4 linked regions of the Homo sapiens genome follow. The protein of the gene in region 3 purifies or fractionates together with the protein of the main gene of each other region. This does not show direct contact. Each region holds a gene or a part of one and is shown on either strand. Other genes may lie near its edges.

Evidence for each region.
Region 1: the proteins of ZNF684 (region 3) and NAE1 purify together in Homo sapiens (affinity purification with mass spectrometry; one large-scale study listed by BioGRID and IntAct). This does not show direct contact.
Region 2: the proteins of ZNF684 (region 3) and ASAH1 purify together in Homo sapiens (affinity purification with mass spectrometry, with the first as the bait; one large-scale study listed by BioGRID). This does not show direct contact.
Region 4: the proteins of ZNF684 (region 3) and PHYKPL purify together in Homo sapiens (affinity purification with mass spectrometry; 2 studies listed by BioGRID and IntAct, with this or other methods). This does not show direct contact.

What each region holds. Positions count from the first base shown.
Region 1 is NC_000016.10:66,804,678-66,806,976, forward strand, and holds part of NAE1 (NEDD8-activating enzyme E1 regulatory subunit), read right to left. Parts: intron 1,350-2,299; coding exon 1,235-1,349; intron 1,150-1,234; coding exon 1,100-1,149; intron 1-1,099. UniProt on the Homo sapiens protein: Regulatory subunit of the dimeric UBA3-NAE1 E1 enzyme. E1 activates NEDD8 by first adenylating its C-terminal glycine residue with ATP, thereafter linking this residue to the side chain of the catalytic cysteine, yielding a NEDD8-UBA3 thioester and free AMP.
Region 2 is NC_000008.11:18,070,608-18,074,107, forward strand, and holds part of ASAH1 (acid ceramidase isoform a preproprotein), read right to left. Parts: intron 2,670-3,500; coding exon of another isoform or gene 2,649-2,669; intron 784-2,648; coding exon 693-783; intron 1-692. UniProt on the Homo sapiens protein: Lysosomal ceramidase that hydrolyzes sphingolipid ceramides into sphingosine and free fatty acids at acidic pH.
Region 3 is NC_000001.11:40,530,156-40,534,436, reverse strand, and holds the start of ZNF684 (zinc finger protein 684), read right to left. Parts: upstream 2,801-4,281; 5' UTR 2,650-2,800; intron 1,295-2,649; 5' UTR 1,271-1,294; coding exon 1,256-1,270; intron 1-1,255. UniProt on the Homo sapiens protein: May be involved in transcriptional regulation.
Region 4 is NC_000005.10:178,230,003-178,234,218, reverse strand, and holds the start of PHYKPL (5-phosphohydroxy-L-lysine phospho-lyase), read left to right. Parts: upstream 1-1,416; 5' UTR 1,417-1,668; coding exon 1,669-1,727; exon of another isoform or gene 1,728-2,375; coding exon of another isoform or gene 2,376-2,550; intron 2,551-2,695; coding exon 2,696-2,814; intron 2,815-4,119; coding exon 4,120-4,216.

The sequences.
Region 1 (2,299 bases), on a different chromosome or scaffold from region 3:
CATATGTTGAAATCCTAACCCCCAGTGTAATTGTATGAGGATAGGGCCTTTGGTAGGTGATTAGGTCAAGAGCGTAGAACCTTCATGAATAGGATTAGTGCCCTAAGAAGAGACCCCAGAGACTTCTCTTGCCATTTTTTTTTTCACCATGTGAGAACACAGAAGAGAGAGCTGCCTATGAACCAGGAAATGGGCGCTCACCAGACCTGACCATGCTGGCACCCTGATCCCAGACTTCTAGCCTCCAGAACTCTGTGACAAATTTTTATTGTTTATAAGTCTATGATATTCTGTTACAGCAGCCCAAACTGACTAAGACAAGGGGGAAGTAGAGTGAGGGAGGGAAGTAAAGGGAGCTTTTATGAAAGACATGTCATTTTTGAGTTGGGTCTTGAAGAACATATAGGTTTTGGACATGCAGAAAAACATATTTTTAAGGCAAATAGGCACAGAGGAGCAAAGATCTAGGAGCAGGAAATCAAAGGGCATCCTGGGGGGAAAGCAAGTAATATGATAAAACCAAGGCTGGAAAGGCCGAGTGGAACCAAAACACAGGGTTTTTTAACGTCAAGCCAAAGTCCTTGGACTTGCTTGGAGGACTGTTGTAGAGTGTTATGTATATTGGTGGGGCAGAGGGTTAGTAAAAGGACACAATCAGAGCTATGCTTTAGAAGGATTAATGACTCTTAAGGAGTTTAAGTTGGATGGCAGTGGGAGAGATGGAAGGCAGGGAGACCAGTATAGGGGCAACTGAATAAATATCCTAACCTGAGCAACATAGTGGGACCCTGTCTCTACAAAAAATTGAAAAATTAGCCAGGCTTACTGGCACATGCCTGTAGTCCCAGCTATTCAGGAGGCGGAGGCGAGAGATCACTTGAGCCCAGGAGTTTGAGGTTGCAGCGAGCTATGATGGCATCAATACACTCCAACCTGGGCAAAACAGTGAGACTGCGTCTCAAAAAAAAAAAAAAGAAAGAAATATAACATCCTGCTTCACTGACCTCCCTAATTAAAATAGCTAGACGACAAAACTTTGTATTAAAATAGTAACTGTACTATGTAACAACAGGTGAGTCTTCTCATATATGGAACTCACCCCCCAAGAATGCAGCAATGGTATGTGGCTCAGCAGCTCCATATCGGCAACTAAAGGAGACCACAGAGACATGAATTTTGATTAGCCTTATGACAGGTGTGGAATCATCTCCTAGATACCCTAAAAAATACTCACAATTCGTGGACATAATCATCTTTCACCATTACAGATAAACCATATTCCTGAAGGAAGCCAGTGAGACAAGACTTCAACTTTCCTATATCTTCTTCAACTTGATAGTTAGATACTCCTAAAAATAAAAGTTAGTTTTCATTAAAATAAATGTGATTCAAAATTAATGGCCAACTCCTTTATTTAATCTAGTTTCAGATGTTCTAGTCAAAATATGTATGAAACTGAAGAACAAAAATAACAAAGTATGAGACCAATATTTGCACATATCACAAACCTATAATCAGAGACCAACTAAAACCTAGTAAAAATTTGAATTTAATTAAATCTTTATTAATTGCATCATATTCACTGTCTAGAAAAGCATCTGGCACATAGTGCTTAATAATTATTTGATAGAAGAACTTAATGAATGAGAAAGTAATGTCCTACTTATACCCTTTATAAAAGTTATTCTCCAATTCTAAAAGACTAAATGATAAATGACACTGAGGACATAAAGCTATTAATAATAGGTAACTTTTTTTTTTTCTTTTGAGAGAGAGTCTTGCTGTTACCTAGGCTGGAGTGCAGTGGTGCAGTCTCGGCTCACCGCAACCTCTGCCTGCCGGGTTCAAATGATTCTCATGCCTCAGCCTCCCAAGAAACTGAGACTACAGGAGTGCGCCACCACACACAGCTAATTTTTTCTATTTTTAGTTTCAGTGTTGGCTAGGCTGGTCTCGAACTCCTGGCCTCAAGTGATCCACCCGCCTTGGCCTCCCAAAGTGCTGGGATTACAGGTGTGAGCCACCATGCCTGGCCAATAATAGGTCACATTTATTGAGCATTAATAGATGCTGGACACTGTTCTAAGGACCTTATATCTATATTAATTGATTGAATCCTCAAAACAGTCCTATGAAGTATGTATAGTTATCTCCATTTATAGAAGAGAAAACTAAAGCACAGAGAGATTAAGTTACTTAGCTCATAAGTGATGCTGTATGACTTCCAAAGCTAGGTCATAAAAAGCCCTGTACCTTCCACTTGGGTTTTTTGGAATGTTAACTGCAGAAGCCAACTGAC
Region 2 (3,500 bases), on a different chromosome or scaffold from region 3:
GTAAGTCTAATTTTATCTTTAAAGTGAATTTGATTCTTAATTATTTACATGAAGGGAGATGACATAAAGGGAAAGAAACAAAGGTAAAGTTTACAAAAAAGAACAAAGGCTACAGAGGAATGACCTCTTTTCCTCTGCTGTCACTTAACGTATAGGGCAGAAAGGTATCAAAAGCACAATTTTAAACTATTCTGTGGGTAATTTCATGAAGTGTTCTTTTAAAAATACAATAATATTTAATAAAGTTAGAAATAAAAGATTTAATATAGAATCTCCACGGTCCTTGGGGGGAAAATAAATAAATAAAATAAGAAATATGGCCGGGCATGGCGGCTCATGCCTATAATCCCAGCACTTTGGGAGGCTGAGGTGGGAGGATCACTCGAGGTCAGGAGTTTGAGATCAGCTTGGACAACATGGCAAAATCTTGTCTCTACTAAAAATACAAAAATTAGCCGGCATGGTGGCAGGTGCCTGTAATTCCAGCTACTCGGGAAGCTGAGGCAGGGAAATTGCTAGAACCCAGGAGGCGGAGGTTGCGGCGAGCTGAGATCGTGCCACTGCATTCCAGCCTGGGTGACAGAGTGAGACTCTGTCTCAAAACAAAAAAAAAATCAATCAATAAATAAAAATAAAGAAATAAAATAAAAAATAAAAATAAAGAAATAAAAGATTTAAGCATCATAGCATACCACTGGTGCCTTGTCAAGCATCAATTCATGCCATCTTTTGTAGGGTGGTAAGTCAAGATTTATGGTGTACCATGGAACTGCACCTCTGTACCTGTAATGAGAGGTGTATCATCTTGAAATGATGAAAGGGTTTTTTGTGAGGGTCAGTTAGATACATCTATAAGAATATATGAGAGGCAAAGTCTTAACAGCAGTGTAGAATTTGGTTACCCAAACCAAAATTTGGAAAGAAAGTTCATTCTCTACCTAGTGCTTCTAGGTTGAGAACACAATCATAAGCGGTCACAGAAATCCTGGAATAGAATGATCTAGTAGGGAAGGTTCATGTGAATTGGTTTTCTATGAAAAAATCAACTATGGCTTAAGAGCTCTAACCTGATTATCACTGACGGGAAATACCTGCCATTTTTTTTTTCTCCTAAATATCTGCAAAGATTTAGTCTGGGCTCTAGACAATTCTCCAATTGGTTTCCAGTTTCAGAATTCTCTCTCAGAGAGTGTAACACTATTGCCAAACCAATGTCTCCAGTGTTGCCTTCAGGAAGATCACCTTTTAAGCCCCAGATGGCAACATGTATTATCTTCCCACGATCAGCTTCAAGAACCTTCATGATTCTGTCAGCCATCCTAATCTTCCCTACTATATACCTCTTCTCTTCTCATTTTCCTGGACAAAGTCCAAGCCCAAGCTGTATTCTGTCATATCCTCCAACTTCCTACTCTTTAACTTACGTGCAGCAATTTCTGAGGATATAGCAACATCCAGTCACTTATCAGTGAAGCTGGGCCATATTTCTGGTGGATGAATTCTACAACTATTTTTGTTGCTATAGGAACATTATTTTCTGGCCCTGGTTACTAAACTGAAATAGCTTTTAAGGGTGTGCCAGTTAGTGGTTTATCAGTATAAACCTATGCCTAAAAATAACCATCATCTGTTCCACTGATCTGCTCCTGAGACTGGCAGGGTGACTCTGGTATGTGCCACAATGATACCAGTCTCCTAAATAGAAATGTTATCTAGACTTATGTCCATAGCTGGGGATGGGTTATTACCTAAGTCATGAACTGTGGTTCTATTTATATTTCCACTATCATAAATAATTACTTGGTTCTCTAAATAATGCTGTGTAACTTGGGGCCCTGGTATATGTATGAGGTTTTATGAAACTGTTAACTAGCAGACATTCAGGTTGTGATTTAGACAGAAAAGTATATTCGATTTTGGAAATGTACATTTAAACAAAATCATAGTGAACGAATTTTGTTCTTCTCAAAGCATTTTCAAGTTCCCCATTTTCTTAGGAGCTGATATCTACATGAAATGCTACAATACTTATATTCTAGAAAAAAACTTTTCATCACAACAAATTAATTCCATTTCTGACAGACCATAATTTCACATGTAAAATTTTGTCCCACAATTCAGTAAGTAATTATTGTTCCCCATATTATGGGCAGGTATTACTAGTCTCCCCTCTCCCTTCAACTGTGCATTTAGATTTCTATGTCTAGTAGCAAAGATAACTCAGTGGCCTGTTGGAGATATGCATCTCATCCCTATGAACTCCAATCAGCTGCTCCTCACCTCATAACATCCAACCAATCCCAAATCATGCCTCTATACCCGCCATAAATTCCTGATTCTTTTTCAGCCTAGAGTCCTGGGTAGGTTCATGGATCTCAGAGACGCGATGAGAGGGGATGAACACAACACAACGGACAATGAAGGGATTACAATGAAGTGGGGATGATGAGACCCCACAAACCTCTCTACCATCAAACCTGCACTAATTAGAATTTGAGAGAACTGGTTAATCTAATAAACCAAATTATTTTAATGACTAAAGCTTAGCCATAATTGCACATTTTACCTCTCGTTAAACAGTTTTCTAAAACATTTCAGTATTTAACTTGTGCGCCTCCATTTCCCCATAAGAATAAAAGAGTATCCACCTTATAACAGCAGGGAAGACACTATATGAAAAATGCAAAAATAAAAAAAACACTTAGCAGCATTGGTATTCAATCAACAGTAGTCATCACAATTTATTTTCCTACTTCACTGCAAACAAGAAATATCATTTCATCATTTTTGAGACTTAGTGTTTGCAATGTCCATGCCATTCATAATATCAGCAACATCACCTGAACCCACATGGCTACCTAGGTGGCATGGAAACTAGTCCAAGTGACACAACACACACATATACAAATAAGAGAGCAAGTGCTAGGCATCCCGTGAGCAGTGGGAAAGAAATGCTGAATGGGACTCAGATGGACTCAGGGGTGATCTGGCTATCAGTTCCTTTATCTTCAGCATTGATTTGACTAGTCATGCTGGCCAAACAGGTTATCTTTTTCTTCCCTCATATCTGCCCATGGATGCTGCCCAAATCTACGCACTTAATTGAAAAGGATGATCTCAAAGGAACAGAACGTCTGTTTGTCATTCAAAGGTACATAAATACCACAGTTATCTCCTAAATCTCAAGATCCATTGATAGAGTTGAGAGAAGAGAAGGATAAGAGCAAAGCCGAGGCTTTTTGTGTAGGAAAGCAGGCTAGTGAGATAAAAAGAAAGCTAGCGAAAAAATGAAGGCAAGGAAAGAAACATACAAGTTATGTCCATGTATACACGTGTATGTGTTTTGGAGTACATATGTATGTATACATGTAGGTATGTATGCACATAGGTAGACACACACTCACATGCACATGGCAATAAGAGTCAGTAAAATGCCTAATCAGGAAAGGTTTATGGTTTGCAGGGCATTCAATTTATAGACACATGTAAAGTGCACCTAA
Region 3 (4,281 bases):
AAACCCTGTCTCTACTAAAAATACAAAAATTAGCCGGGCGTGGTGGCGGGCACCTGTAATCCCACCTACTCAGGAAGCTGAGGCAGGAGAATCACTTGAACTCAGGAGATGGAGGTTGCAGTAAGCCAAGATTGTGCCACTGCACTCCAGCCTGGGTAACAGAGTGAAACTCTGTCTCAAAAAAAAAAAAAAAAAAAAAATTATAATAAAAGACCTATAAGAAAACCTGAATAAATAGGACTCATTGAAAAGTCATGAATTCTCTCCAAATTAACCTATTAAGTTTAATGCAATCCTAATAAGAATATCTGGCCGGGCGCAGTGGTTCACAACTGTAATCCTACCAGCACTTTGGAAGGCTGAGGCAGGCAGATCACTTGAGGTCAGGAATTCGAGACCAGCCTGGTCAACAAGGTGAAACCCCGTCTCTACTAAAAACACAAAAATTAGCTGGGCGTGGTGGCACATGCCTGTAATCCAAGCTACTTGGGAGGTTGAGGCAGGAGAATCGCTTGAACCTGGGAGGTAGAGGTTGCAGTGAGCTGAGATCACGCCATTGTACTCCAGCCTAGGCAACAGAGCAAGACTGTCTCAAAAAAAAAAAAAAAAAAAAGAATACCTAACATACTGCTTTATGAACCTTGACAATATTTGTTATTTTGATGACCTTAAAATTCATGTAGAAGAGTAAATGCTCAGGATAGCTAGAGACTGGAAAAGGTACAAGATTTACTTATGGATCCAGGTGGGCATTAAAAAGGCCACATACCTGGACTTATAAATTGAGTTCATTTAGTGCTGCTTGGCACTATGTTCTTACTCTAGGGAATACTCTAAGAAAGTCATAGGAAACCTGATGCTGTATTTATCGCAGGCTGCTGCTGTGAATGTTATTTCTAATGTTATCTATGTGAAAACTCATTAGAAAAGATTTTCTTCAAAGAACTGTGTCAGGAAAAACTTTACTTACAAGGAGAATAATTTTGCTTTATCTTCACAGCAATGCCAATACTTTTTAACTGGCTGGTTATCCATTTACTATGATTTCCAGGAAGACTGAGTACACATTTGCAGCTCAAATTTGTTCCAACCATCTGCAAACCCTATGACTTGAATATCAACTTACCAATCTTCTAAATTTCCTTTTAGACTTGATCTTTTATTTGGTTTACATTTTTCCTGACCATACATTTCCTTTTTATCATATGGATTTTTGGGAGATTTAAACAACTGGATGAATAGATGGATACCTTACCTGGAAGCTGATCATTTTCTGCAGCTCTTACACAGAAATCTATGAAAGTAGAAATGGGGAAGAGAATAGAAAGACCTGAGATACCAGGACTGCATGCAAAGTAGAACCCTGCTCTATCAGACCATAAGTACCCACACTGCAGCCTCAGAAAATGCCACCTAGTGGGGGAGAATGACATTTCTAGCAAGACAGAAAAGTCCATGTTCCATAAGCACAGATCTCTACTTGTGATTGTTAGGAATATATGGAGCTTAGATAAGGATGTTATATGTTTCTGTCCTACTGATCTAGCACCAAGTGGTTCCTCTTGAAACAGTTATTTTTTTTCCTCCCAGAAATTTATCCTGAAGAAATAATGAATGAGTTGACTCACTTAAAAGCTTGGTCTCTGAAGCTCCGTAAGTCTAAAAATGATTCCTTCCTGTGATTCTCTGGTTTCTACTCTGACGCTGGGATAAGAGATTGCAAATTAGGTTGGGCTTTCTTGAGAAGGCTGGATTCAGGGACCCAGGAACACTTTTTTTTATTTTTTTTTTGTTAAGCTGGATCCTTCAGTTTAAACTCCAAATGTTTCTCTCTGTAGAAACTCGCCATCTCCTATGAGCTTAGAACTGCTGGGGCTCTAGAAAGGGTATAATGGGCAAACCGGGGACTCACATCTTCATTTACACAGTCTGCACTGGAAGATCTGCAGATACACCAAGAGACTCTACAAAATGACTACAAATCGAAATTTACTCAGCATTCATTGCTCAAACATTTCAGGAGAATAAACCCAACTCTGTTTTATGCAGGAATGCTATACTGTAAAAAAAAAAAAAAAGAAATTTGGAGAAAATGTATCTGAGTTTGAATCTCAGTTCTTCCACTTACTAAGCTGTGTGAGTCCAGGCAAGTAATTTCACCTTTCAGCTTCAGTTAACTCATATGCAAAATGGTAATAGCATTTACTTCAAATGATTGCTGAGAATACCCTTCTAATCCATAGCAGTTTCTCAAGAATGCTTTCTTCCTGGATCCCTTGAAATAGCTTACAGTTTCCACTGGATCCCTTGACACGGCTTAAAATTGTCGCAGGCTCCAGTCGGGCCAACTATGCTCTTGGAACCAGGAAAGGTACAGTTAGATGAACAGACTCCTACATAGTGACCTTGACCTACAAGAGCAGGAATGCAAATTGAGCCTCTCCCAGTCCCACCAGAGCCCTGGACATCTACCCAGTGCCAGTCGGAGCCCAACTCTTGCTTTCTCTCAGCTACTCGAGTTGAACAGGACCCACATATCCAAACCTGAAGTCACTGCGCTTGGAGACTAAAGTTTTATCTTCGGTAGGGTAAACCTAGAAGCCAGTCCCCGCCTTTCTCTTACGTCCTCCGAGTCCAGCAAAGCCATACCTGCCACCCTTTCACTGCCTCGCTCGCAGCTCCGGCTCCAAGCCTGGGATCAGTCACAGCGTCGTCCAGAGACAGGGGAGCAACACCCGCCCGCACTTCCCGCGGCGCTGATTTGAAGATTGAATACCGGCTACCGTCCTACTACGCGTGTGCGGAAGTAACTGTCCACCTAGAGTTCCTGGACTCCTCCCGGGTGTAGGCCATCCGTCGGAGACCACATTTCCCATAAGGCCAGTGGAGCTCGTTTCCGGAAGACGTCAGACGCTGCTTCCTCTTGGGGGGTGGTGCGGAGATTCCCGGGTTGGTATCTCTATTGCTAGCCTGAGAGCCACGCTTTTTAAGTCGTTTTCATTTAAAAGGATACACAGCATTTTTAAATACTGGAAAGTAAAATCGGCGGTATGCTAAAAACAATTTGCTCTTACTCAGCAGGGTTTCTTCTAGCAATGCACCAGGTTAAGTCGGAGAGGTGAAGAGGATCCAACAAAGAAGACTGAGAAGGAATAATCCATGAAGTAGATGGAAAAGTAGGAGAGTTTAGATCTGCAAAACCAAGGGAAGGAAGTGTTTCAAGAAGGGAGTGACCCATTGTCTCAAATGTTGCTCATAGGTCAAGTAAAATGAGAATTAAGAATGGGCCACTGTAGCAATGGTCACCAGTGATGTTGAAACGCCATTTTGGCAGTGGTGGAAGTTTGATAAAGTCTGATGAAAATTTGATAGGAGTTGGAGGGAAGGATGGGAGGAGAGGAAATGGAGAAAGCAAATATACGCAATACTTTTAAGAAGTTTTGTTTTTAAGGTGAGCAGAAAAATAAGGCTATCATGGGATAGGGATTTTGTTAATCTTTTGTTGTTGCGTTTTTCCACGTTCTAATTTTTTTTTTTTTTTTAATTCAAAGATGGGGCTGAGTGTGGTGGCTTATGCCTGTAATCCTAACATTTCAGGAGGCCAAAGTGGGAGGATTGGTTGAGCCCAGGAGTCTGAAACTGCCTAGGCAACATAGTGAGACCCTCATCTCTACAAAAAATAAAAAACTAGCCTGGCATGGCACCCGCCTGAAGTCCCAACTACTTGAGAGGCTGAGATGGGAGGATCGCTTGAGCCCAGACAGTAGAGACTGCAGTGAGCCGTGATCCCGCCACTGCACTGCAGCATGGGCGACAGAGCTAGTCTCTGTCTCAAAAAAATAAAATAAAAAAGATGGAAGAAATTATAGTAAGTTTATGTACTAATTAAAAGGATCTAGGCTGGGCGCAGTGGCTCACGCCTGTAATCCCAGCACTTTGGGAAGCTTAGGTGGGCAGATCACCTGAGGTCAGGAGTTGGAGACCAGCCTGGCCAACGTGGTGAAACCCCGTCTCTACTAAAAATACAAAAATTAGCCGGGCGTGGTGGCAGACGCCTGTAAACCCAGCTACCTGGGAGGCTGAGGCGGGAGAATCACTTGAACCCGGGAGGCAGAGGTTGCAGTGAGCCGAGATCACACCACTGCACTCCAGCCTGGGCGACAGAGCGAGGCTCTGTCTCAAATAAATGAATTAGTTAATAAAATAAAACAAAAGATCCAGTAGAGGCGGGAAATACACAATTCAGGATAGACAGGCTAGTTACTCGGAGGAATGTCCTTG
Region 4 (4,216 bases), on a different chromosome or scaffold from region 3:
CACGGTCTGTGAGGTCTTGATCCTCAGAAACGAAGTACAGGCTGGGTATGGTGGCGTGCACCTGTAGTAGCAGGTACTTGAGAGGCTGAGATGGGAGGATCACATGATCCCAGGGAGGTAGAGACTGCAATGCTGCACTCCAGCCTGAACAACAGAATAAGACCCTTTCTTTAAAAAAAAAAAAAAATACAGGCCACAAGCAGTTAACCTCGCAGTTAATTTGGGAAGAATTTTTTCCAAAAATCATGTAAAATATTCAATTCAGCTTTACAGTTAAAAATAAGAAATTCCATTCTTTTAGGGAAGATGAAAAAGTCCTGTTGCATGGATGGTGGTGATGGCTGCACGACGATGTGAATGTACTTTTGCCACTGAATTGTATCCTTAAAAATGGTTAAAATGGTAAAATTTTGTTATGTATATTTTACACAATAAAGAAAAAAGAAACTCCAAATGTTCTTTAATAAATGCCTTAAGCGGCCGGGTGCGGTGGCTCACCCGGCCTGTAATCCCAGCACTCTGGGAGGCCGAGGCAGGCAGATCATCTGAGGTCAAGAGTTCAATAAATGCCTTATGCATCTTACAACTGTATTGGGAAGAGAAGAAGAAATCAGCAATGAGGGAGTGAAGCAGAGGCCTGGGAATCATGATGTGGACAGAAAGAAGGGACAATCAGGAGCCTCCCCTGCACCTGCTGCAGTCCCAGGCCCGTGTTCCAGGGTTCTTCAAGGCAGAAAGCCCCAGTGCCTCACCCCAGGAGGGGGCTTTTCTCTCATATCCCAGCCCCTTGGGAGGCTTTTTCTTCTCACTCCCTGGGCTGGGAGTCAAGAAGACCTCAGTAGGAGTCCAGCCTCTGCAGCCTTGCTGCGTGTCTGACAACAAAACCCTTTCCCTTTCTGGGCTTCAGGGTCACCGACATGTACCACAAGGAGGATTCCCAACCTCTCTTCTTGCCCAAACGCTGCATGATTCTCTCAGCGACGATACAGCTCGTCCGGTTCACCCTGCCTAGATTCTAGCAGGAACTATGGTGCCCTGAAGGTCAAGCCCATGGTGATCTCCTTGGTCAGCCCCAGAAGGGACCCTGGGCTCTCCTTCTGCTCTTCCTGCTGCCCCTTCATGGGGCTGGGAAAACCTAGGACCTGCTTCTCCCACCCTGAGGCCCCTACTGTGTACCAGGCCCGGGTAAGGTACCAGTCACATACTCGCACTTAGGCCTCACAGTTCATCCCATTTTATGCACAAGGCGACTCAAAGACTGAGTCTGGCCCAGAGAAGGCCTGCAGGAGCTCCGAGCCCCGCCTGGGCGCCGGGAGCAGGGGCGGGGTCGTCCGGGACCCTTTCCCGGAAGGGAGGCCGCAGGGGCCTGCGGGGCGGGGCCTGCGGGGCGAGGCCCGGGGCGCGTCCCGGAACCAGAGACGGGGCAGCGCTCGAGTTCCTGCGCGGGACTGCCAAGGCACGACCACGGGCCGGAAGGCTGCCAGGCCCAGTGGGCAAGCGAAGAAATGAACCACCGCAACGCGGGCGCTTCGGGGCGGGGCCGAGTGCGAACCTGAGCCCCAAATCCCGACCCAGGCAGGGGCGGGGCCCGGAGCGGGGCCTTGGAGGCCCAGCCCGCGCGGCGACGTCTCCGCGTGGCGTCACGGCACCGACTGACGGCCACCCACCATGGCCGCAGACCAGCGCCCGAAGGCCGACACGCTGGCCCTGAGGCAACGGCTCATCAGGTACCCGGGCGGGGGGCGGGCGGCGGGGGGCGCGGGGCTGCGCGGAGAGGCACGCGCACGCACGACGCACGCACGCACGCACTACGCACGCGCCTCCGGCTAGGAAGCCGCTGCTACCCATCCCGTCCGGCCGCTGCCCCGGCCCCGCTGGAGCTTCTAGGGCCCGAGGCGGGCGGCGCCGTTGGGCAGTCCCGGCGGGTGGTCTCCGGGGCCGCCTCCCCGACAGCGCCGTCTCCAGGCCGCCCAGTTCAGGAGACGGCCCCGCCCTCACCGCTGTTCGGCTGTGTCAGCCTCGCTTGGCAGCCTTTACTCCGGAGAAGACCTTCACCCTGGCGCCTGAGAGGACCTCACCCAGGGTGGCCCGTCAGCAGCACCTGGGCCTGGCTCGAGAGTGACCTGGGAGGGGGCTGAAAGGGCAGACAAGGGAGAGTCGGGGGAGTCGGTTCACAGGCAGCACACTTGACCTGTGAGGGGGCCCTCGGTGGGACGGTGGGTGAGGTCGCCTCCCACTGGAGCTTAGGGCTGGCACCCAGCGAGGGGCAGCAGGGCCACGTGGCTGGCAAGGAGCTGTTTAGGGCTGAGAGCCAGGCACCTAATGTTGGTGCCCTGGCCCATCCCATCGAAGACACGCGGCCTTATGGAGTCCCCATGGGACGGGGCAGCCACCTTTTCTCAGGATCCGGGAGACTGACGCGGACACATGCAGAAATGAGCAAGGAGGCCACAGAGGCTGAAAATGCTTTCAGAAACAATCCGAAGTTTCAGCGACTTGTTACCCCATCTGCTTCCTGCTTTGCAACCACCTGTGGAGTGGAGAGACAAGGCAGGGAAGCAGCACCTTGCCCTTCCAGCTCTCATTTCCCCCCCGCCACCAGAAACTGGGAAGGGGTGGGCGGGGGTCTGCGATGAGTAGACTTCACCCTTTCGGTCTTCAGACATGGCTGTCCACTCCTTGCCTGTCCCCACAGCTCTTCCTGCAGACTCTTTTTTCCCGAGGATCCTGTTAAGATTGTCCGGGCCCAAGGGCAGTACATGTACGATGAACAGGGGGCAGAATACATCGATTGCATCAGCAATGTGGCGCACGGTCAGTATCACACCTCAGGCTGGCAGGGCAGGAGAGGAAGGCAGTGCTGTGAACCTGGTCCCAAGGTGACCTGAGATTGCCGAGAGGTGTGGAGAACCTGGGTGGAGTTGAGGCACTGTCAGTATGCAGAGGAGGCTCAGCCTTCGCAATATAGCTGTGGAATTCTGCAATCTGGAGCTGTGCTAAACCAGGCAGGGGTCAGCAATCTAGGTCTGTGAGTCTAGTTCCACTTGGGACTGATGATGAGCTCACAAAGTGGCAGATGGCCCAGCTGTGACCAGCAACGTAGCACAGTGCTGGCCAAGTGCTGGGGTCATGGCAGTGCTTCAGCCCCATTGGCCATCTCAGGTGCTAGGCAAGGGAGCTGAAGTAGGAATTCAGTCATCTTGATGAGGCTGCCAGAGCTGATGGAAAGAAAGGGAGTCTGAGACTCAGCAGGCACATGGAAGATGAATAAAGTTGAGGTTAAAAAAAAAAAAAAAGCAGAGACTCTAGTCTTAGACTGCTTGGGCTCAAATCCCTGTCCCCTACTTACTAACTTGTGATCTCGGGCAAGTTACTTAATTCTCAGTGCCTCAGTTTGCTTATCTGTGAAAGACATAATGATACTAGGTACCCACTTTAAGGTGTTTGGAGAATTAAGTGTGTTAATTTATGTAGCTTGCTCTGAATGTGCCTGGCACATGGTGAGCTCTCAGTACATATTCACTGTTATTATCCTTGGCCTTTGACAATCAAGATTACCACCAGCCCCCTTGGCTGGTGAAGTGAAACCAGTTGACAGTCACCCCCCACCCCACCTTTGTCATACAAGCCTCAAAAGGCCTTCCAGCCTGGGCAACATAATGAGACCTTGTCTCTACCAAAAAAAAACTTAAAAATTAGCCAGGCATGGTGACTGGTGTCTATAGCCCCACCTGCTCAGGAGGCTGAGGTGGGAGGACCACTTGAGCCCAGGAGTGTGAGGATGCAGTGAATGCCATGATCACACCATACACTCCAGCCTGGGTGACAGAGTAAGGCCCTGTTAAAAAAAAAAAAAAAAGTCCTCCTTAAAGACATGGGCTTTCTAGACAGGGTTCTTCTGCTGAAGCGGCTTTCCTTCTGCCAGAATCTCAGGAACTCCTGGATCTGCCTTTCCAGAACCAGCTTCTCTCTCCCTGCTCTGCCTTCAGACTGCCCTCTTTCTACCTCTCCCTCTAGAACTACATCTCTTCTGGCTGGGTTTATAGCTTGGGGCTGGGGGAGGCCCAGTGGGACTGGCTGAGTGGAGCCAGCCGTGTGACGGAGGCGGCCCTCTTCCAGTTGGGCACTGCCACCCTCTCGTGGTCCAAGCAGCACATGAGCAGAACCAGGTGCTCAACACCAACAGCCGGTACCTGCATGACAACATCGTGGACTA